2 linked regions of the Homo sapiens genome follow. The protein of the gene in region 1 interacts with the protein of each later gene in a pairwise test. Each region holds a gene or a part of one and is shown on either strand. Other genes may lie near its edges. The genes, in order: POM121C and CHRM3.

Region 1 (3,825 bases):
ATAATCATTCAACATGTGAACAGATGATCAAACTACTCATAAGAGACAAAAATTAAATACTATTTTTTTTTTTTTTAAGATGGAGTCTCACTCTGTTGTCCAGGCTGGAGGGCAGTGGCATGAGGTCGGCTCACTTGACCTCCGCCTTCCAGGGTCGAGCAGTTCTCCTGCCTCAGCCTCCTAAGTAGCTGGGATTATAGGCACACGCCACCACACCTGGTTAAATTTTTTGTATTTTTAGTAGAGATGGGGTTTTGCCATGTTGGTCAGGCTGGTCTCAAACTCCTGATCGCAGGTGATCCACCTGCCTTGGCTTCCCAAAGTGCTGGGATTACAAGAGTGAGCCACGGTGGCGCTCAGCTAGCTTTTTTTTTTTTTTTTTTGAGACAGAGTCTCACTATGTTGCCCAGGCTGGAGTGCAGTGGCGCTATCTCTGCTCACTGCAGCCTGTGCCTCCTGGGTTCCTGAGATTCTCCTGCCTCAGCGTCCCGAGTAGCTGGGATTACAGGCGTGCACCACCATGCCCAGCTAATTTTTATATTTTTAGTAGAGACAGGATTTCACCATGTTGGCCAGGATGGTCTCGAACTCAGGTGATCTGCCTGCCTCGGACTCTCAAAGTGCTGGGATTACAGGCGTGAGCCTCCATGCCCATCCTAGATACTATTTTTTACCTGTCAAATTGGTAAAAGCCCAGAGCTACAATAACCAAATCTGCTGGTGAGGCCAGGGAGAAATGGTCCCTTTCATTCAATACTGAGGGGAATGCTGAGTGGTACATGCCCTGTAGGGGGATTTAACAATACCCAGCAAAATCACATGCGCATTTAACCCTTGACCGGAATCTGACTTCTAGAAATTTTTCCAGAGGCAAAACTGCCAAGGGTGAAAGGACATATGAACAAATGTATTCTTTGCAGCATTATTTGTGATAGCAGAAGACTGAAACAACCCAACGTTTGTCAATAGAGGACTAGAGTACCTATGCAGTTGTAAGACCAAAGATGAGTTTCTGTGTACTGCTATGGAATGACGTCAACTGTCTATTATGTGAAAAAGCAAGGTTCAAATCTATATATACTGTCTACTACCTTAAATGTTAGAAGGTGGCAGTTTTCAGATACACTGATACGCATACCGTTTAAAAAAGAACAACAAAGGATAATCAAAAAATAATAAAAATGGAGAGGAAGGAAAAATGTAGAGTGGAAAGGGATGGAAATTGAATTTTTGAGTGTATCTTGTTTTAGCGTATTTTTTTCAAACAACAAGTATTTTATGTAATTTAAAATAGAACTATTTCAAAAAGGAAAACATAGAAATCCCTGTAACTTTCAAACATACTGAACAAACGAACCTCACTGTATATAAAGTTGGTGTACCCAAAGGACAATTAACATTACTTTAAAACATGATATATTGATTACATGTCCCTAGGATTCACAGAGGGATATAAAGACCAAATGAATCACAATTCTTAAACTGACTTCAGCAGTCTTAATAATGACAGTGTTAATAATGACACTGATATTGCTATTTTGAAATTGCATGGCCAGGCATGGTGGCTCACACCTGTAATCCCAGCACTTTGGGAGGCCAAGGTGGGTGGATCACCTGAGGTCATGAGTTCCAGGCCAGCCTGGCCAACATGTTGAAACCTTGTGTCAAACTAAAAATACAAAAATTAGCTGGGCGTGGTGGCCAGAGCCTGTAATCCCAGCTACTTGGGAGGCTGAGGCAGGAGAATCGCTTGAATTCAGGAAGCAGAGATTGCAGTGAGCCAAGGTCGCACCACTGCGCTCCAGCGTGGGGAACAGAGTAAGACTCCGTCTCAAAAAAAAAAAAAGAAATTGCATGTACTAGGATCAAAGTAATTATAAACCAACATTTTTGGTGTAATACATAAAAATATAAAATCAAATAGATTACATAAAAAATCCTGCCACCATAAATTTGAATTTGGAATATTATGAATTAATTCTTTACATTCCTCTTTCTAGAGGATCTGTCTATCTTATCTCTCCTAAAACTTAGACTGTAGTCTCTACAGTTCTAACTGGAAGAAACCAAAGCTTTTTGAAGAAACAACCAACTTCAGTATAGGCTAAAAATGGACTTTGGGAAGGTGGGCAAAAAGCAATGAAGCTATCTGTCGAAGACTGCTGGGATCAAAATAAAGGATACAGGAGCCAGTTTGGCTCCCATAGTCCAAAGCTGGAAAAGTTTGCTTATCAAAAATAATAACTAGATATTAAATAATATTAAGGTTAATAATTTAAGAGGGGTAATGGTATTATGGTTATTAATGTTCATTTATATGACTCAGAGCCTTCTGGGCTGATGAACTCATCTCAAAATTTTCCTTGTCTCAAAAACGTTTCTCCTTACATGCTTTACATCTTTTTGTCTGGCTGCTGTATACTGGATACCCACTTACTGACAGCCACTGTAATAGGTGCTTTTTAAATATTACCCTCAATCATTGCAACAGCACTTCAGAGATAAGAAAAAGAGATGTTATGTGATTGTCTGCCCAAGACCTTATAGCTACTAGATGTCAGAGCCAAGCATTTTTTTCCTTTTCTTTGAGACACAGTCTCGCTCTGTTGCACAGGCTAGTCTTGAACTCCTGGGCTCAAGAGGTTCTCCCACCTTGATCTCCCAAAGTGATGGGATTACAGGCATGAGCCATCCCGCCCAGCCTCAGAGCCAAGATTTGAATCTAAGTCTGTCCAGCAGCAAAGCCTGCTCTGTTCCTTATACTATGCAATAATCCCCTTTCCAAAAAATCATGACCACTTGTTTAAAAACCCTGCGCTCAATTCTAAATGCCTATAAATCTCTTTTATGACCCAATACAAGCTGGACTCAGTCTACCTTTCGAATCACCCTCTGTCCGTTTATCTACATCACAGCTCTGTCTCGAATCAGCTCGCACACATGCACTGCTTTACATTCCGGGCTTTCTACTCCGTTCTGCTGGCCTATATTGATCACTCAATGATCTGTATTTTCTATTAGTTAGAGACAATCCTAATGTCCAACAGATAGAAGGTGATTAGTAAACTTTTGCTAACCAATTACTTTATTTAAAAAAATTTCTTTAAAGATTCTTTTGTACAGACAAGGTCTCACTATATTGCCCAGGCTGGTTTTGAACTCCTGGGCTCAAGCAATCCTCCCGCTTTGGCCTTCCAAAGTGCTGGGATTACATGGCTAAGCTACCATGTCTGGCCCTAATCAATGAATGAACGCTGGGAATTCATGCCCCCCACATTACAAGAGCTGTACTTGTACCTGTGAGATGCCTCGAGTGGAGCTGTAGGAACTGGTAATGGCATTGCGGCTGGAGCTAGGGATGCCACTTGTGTAAGCGCCTGTCAAGGAGCTCATGGAAGAGCTTCGGGATCTCTTATTCAAGTGGTCATCTGAGCTCTGAGAATTGAGGCCTCTCTTCAGAGACCCAGGCCTAATAAAAGAGAAGACAGTTAGATGCTTTATTGAAGGCAACATTCTTTTACGATTTCATCCACGGTCATGACATCTTTCTTAATAACATGAAGGGAAGAGAATAATGCTTTTAATTTTTACTGCTAACAATCTGGCCAAATCTATCTGACAAAGTCAGTAAGAAAAGCCAAATATTTAAAACTTAAATGTATGATTTATAGAATATTCTGGAAAATGCATACCTATCTACAGTGACAGAAGACAGATCAGTGGATGCCTGGGGACACGGGTGGAACTAAAGAGAGGGATTACAGGCATGTGGGAACTTTTGGAGGTCATGGATGTTCATTATCTTAGTGGTGGGATGGTTCCACA
Region 2 (3,825 bases), on another chromosome or scaffold:
AAAAATATCAGAGGCAATCCTGTCGTGACATCAAACTGTTAACCATAGTTGTCTTTGGGGGCATTGGGTTATGGTGGACTTTTACTTTTGATATATATTTCCATAATGTTTGAATTTTTGTATGACATATATTACTTTTATAAGGAGACAAACAACAAAAACACTATATTTACTCTTTTCGAGACTGGATCTTGTTCTGTTGCCCAGGCTGGAGTGCAGTGGCACCATCACAGCTCACTGCAGCTTTGAACTAATGGGCTCAAGGGATCCTCCTTGCCTCAGCCTCCCATATAGCTGAGACTACAGGCAGGTGCACAATCAAATCCAGCTGATTTTTAATAATTTTTGTAGAGATTTTTTTTGCTAAGTTGCCCAGGTTGGTCTTCAACTTCTGGCCTCAAACCATCCTCCCACCTCAGCCTTCCAAAGTGAGCCACTGTGCCTGTTTACATATTTTATATGCGAATGTGCACACTGAGCATTTATGAAGAAGACTCTGCACTAGATACTTGAAAGCAGTCAAAGACCAACAAAACACAGCATCTTTCAAGGAGTTCACAGTCTGATATTTCAAACAATTTGTGGCACACACACACTAAAACCAAGAGTGAATGTAATCAGGGATAAAAGTGAGATTCTGATAGAGTAACAGAAGATGAATTCGTTTCAAGTGGTCCTTGACAAATTGCTAAAATTTGGATCCCTGATGATGTGGCACAAAGGGCATCCTATGCAGCAAGAGAACGTGGCAGAGGATGAGGATACCTGCAACAGCAAGTACCAGGGTAAAGTGAAGGGTGACCTTGAGACTTGAGACTGAACTCAACATGCAAACCCAAGCCATGAAATAGGGTGAAGCTGATGCGAGACATTTAGTCTTTATTCAACAGGCAATGGAAGGTGATGTCAAAGAAGGTGTTCAAGGGTAGGAGAAAGATGATCACATTTGGTCCTCAATAACAGTAATCTGTGTAAAATGGATCAAAGGCAATAATATGATCAATGAGATCATCTGGGAAGCTCAGAGACTAAGAAAAGATACAAAGCTAAAACATAAAGCCTTTCTTCTCAGTGTGGTCTGAGCACAGAGGAGCAGTATCTGCATCACCTGAAGGCTGGTTAGAAATGCAGATTCTCAGGCCCCAACCCAGCCCTCATGGATCAGAGTCTGCATTTTATCAAGATCCCTATGTGATCTGAATGCACATTTAAGTTGCAGAAATGATGAATTAAGATATTGGTAGCAGGAGGGGAAAGTAGCCAAGAAGGTTGAGATCTTACTTGGTTGAATCATTAGAATTCGGTACCTGGCTAAATGTAGGAGGTGAGGGAAGAGAATAAATCAAGATCACTTGATTTATTCATAACATTTGAGCTGTAGGATGGTCATGCTATTCATAGAAATAGGAACCCCAGGAGGGGAACAGGATGAGGAAGAAGGAGGGGAAGGCTGTGCTATCCAGCAAGCACATGGAAATGCTCCTTACTGAAGCCAAGTGACCCACATGGAAAGGGTATTTGAAATCGTGAAGACAGAGGCAGGTACAAAAGGAGAGGCAACGGAAGAGTATGGGAGTCAACCAGGGAGAAATTGCTGGAAAGCCCTACACTCTGCAGAAAATAGGGGTGGGGAACAGGAAGAAGAGAAAAGAACCAGAGGAGAGAAGAGAGCTAGGTAGGTATAATTCTCTGAAAATTAAGGGAGTTTAAAGGGATTGCTAAGAGATTAACCAGGACAGACAAGGAAGGGCTACCCGTTTTATGACTAAGAGGTTACAGGTGACTTTTGGAGAAGTCATTGCTATAAACCTCATGAAGGTGGATGAGAGGAGTCAAAAGATTTAAAGTCAGAGGGTAATGAGATTAGGGGAGTGTGATTGCTGTTCGGTGAGTGTAATTGAAAAGGTTAAGAAAAATCATGAAAATTTAGAAGTGGCACATAGGACCAGGTTGAAATAACTTTAAACTTCTCAACTTTAAAGATTTTCTTGTGGAAGAAAGATCAGAAGTGTTCTCATCATAATTCTCAGAATTATTAAGAAGGCAAATAAGTACAATGAGAATTAGATTTTTGGCTCAATATAAAGGGGATCTGCATCTCACTGCTCTGTGAAAATGGAATGACCCCCCTGGTGAGTGTTAATTTCTCAAACATACAGACTGCACAGTTTAACACAAGAGAGAGGTCCAAAGCCAAAAGTTGTTCATTAATGACATCTGCAGTGGTCTGAATGGCGGTCCCTCCAAAAGATGTGCCCACCTCCTAATCCCCAGGTTCTGTGATTACCTTATATGACAAAAGATGTGATGTGATGAAGTTAAAGCTCTTGAAAGGAGGAGCTTATCCTAGATTTTCTGGCTGGGACTTCACTGCAATCACACATATCCTTATAAGACAGGCATATACAGGAGGAGACAGTGAAAGAGGTGGAGGAGGCAACGTGACCACAGAAGCAGAGATTGGAATGATATGCTCACAAGTCAAGGAATGCAGATAGCTACCAGGAGCTGAAGGAAGAAAGGAAGGATTCTCCCCTAGGGTCTTTAGAGGAAGTGCAGTCTTGCCAACACCTTGATTTCAGACTTCTGGCTTCCAGAATTGTGAAAGAATAAACTTCTGTTTTAAAACCTAAGAAATTCACGCAACATCTAACATCCCCTTCCAACCCAGATTTGTTTAGTTACACTCACATTGATCATATGCTCTGAAAAGCAGAGCCCTTGACTTACTGTGTATCCAAAACAGAATGTCCATGGTACTTTGCACATTAGATGATACTGATATGAAAGATGTGATAATGGATGTATATACAACACCTATGTAAATGAACATAGGTGGATTAGATATAAAGAGATAGATAATTGATAGGTAGATAGATGGAATGATTGAGTCATTTACTCATTCTACTCAAACATGTATTTATTATATATTTACTTATATACTCTCATGAAGGTAACTTCTTTGGAGAGAATCAAAATAAATACTACCTGGGTTATCCTTGAGCATCAAATTTTATATTAAAAATGGTGAGTGCCACTAGTATTCAGAGTAGAGGGAAGTGATTTGTAGTTGTTTAGTCAGACCGATTTTCAGTTTCTAACATTCAAATGAATCAAGGGATTTAAAATAATTAGTCACAGGGAAAAACAGAATGATAGCTGCGCTCAAGGAAAGCTGGAAGAGTTTGGCTGGTCCTTGCATGATGGAAAGGATCTGGGGTGAGGAGAGAAGAAAGGAGGACTCCATATAAAGAAACATCATGGCCATTCCAGATTCCCATCACCTCTCCCTTCACACAAGCTACTGCATGTGGCATGTGTTATCGGGCATGTGAGAAAGCACAGGAAACACGGCAGGAGGATCATCACGTCTATTTCAAGTATGAGAACTTCTTTTCAATGTAAATCGTTTGAGAGACCTCCCACAACAGAAGTTGTGCTTTTAGACTATTTTGCACTAAGAAAATTGAAAAATCACAAAAAAGACTGTGTTCAATAACATTTTTAAATGACTATGGATATACATTTAAATATAGTCATCAACATATTGTCAATTTGAAGCCAAAAACCCAACAATATTTAATATTTATATGGGATCTTCTTTCTTTCTTTCTTTATTGAAGAGATGGGGGTCTTGCTATGTTGTCTAGGCTGGAGTACAGTGGCTATTCACAGGTGCAATCATAGTACATTATAACCTTGAACTCCTGGCCTCAAGTGATCTTCCTGCCTTAGCCTCCCGAGTACCTGGGACTACAGGTGTATGCCACTATGCTCAGCCAAAATTTATATGGATTGTGAGTCTACAAAATACCACTGGATTAG

Evidence for each region.
Region 2: the proteins of POM121C (region 1) and CHRM3 interact in a two-hybrid assay, tested with the Homo sapiens proteins (one large-scale study listed by BioGRID and IntAct).

Annotation. Positions count from the first base shown.
Region 1 is NC_000007.14:75,434,218-75,438,042, forward strand, and holds part of POM121C (nuclear envelope pore membrane protein POM 121C), read right to left. Parts: intron 3,470-3,825; coding exon 3,298-3,469; intron 1-3,297. UniProt on the Homo sapiens protein: Essential component of the nuclear pore complex (NPC). The repeat-containing domain may be involved in anchoring components of the pore complex to the pore membrane. When overexpressed in cells induces the formation of cytoplasmic annulate lamellae (AL).
Region 2 is NC_000001.11:239,392,969-239,396,793, reverse strand, and holds part of CHRM3 (muscarinic acetylcholine receptor M3), read right to left. Parts: intron 1-3,825.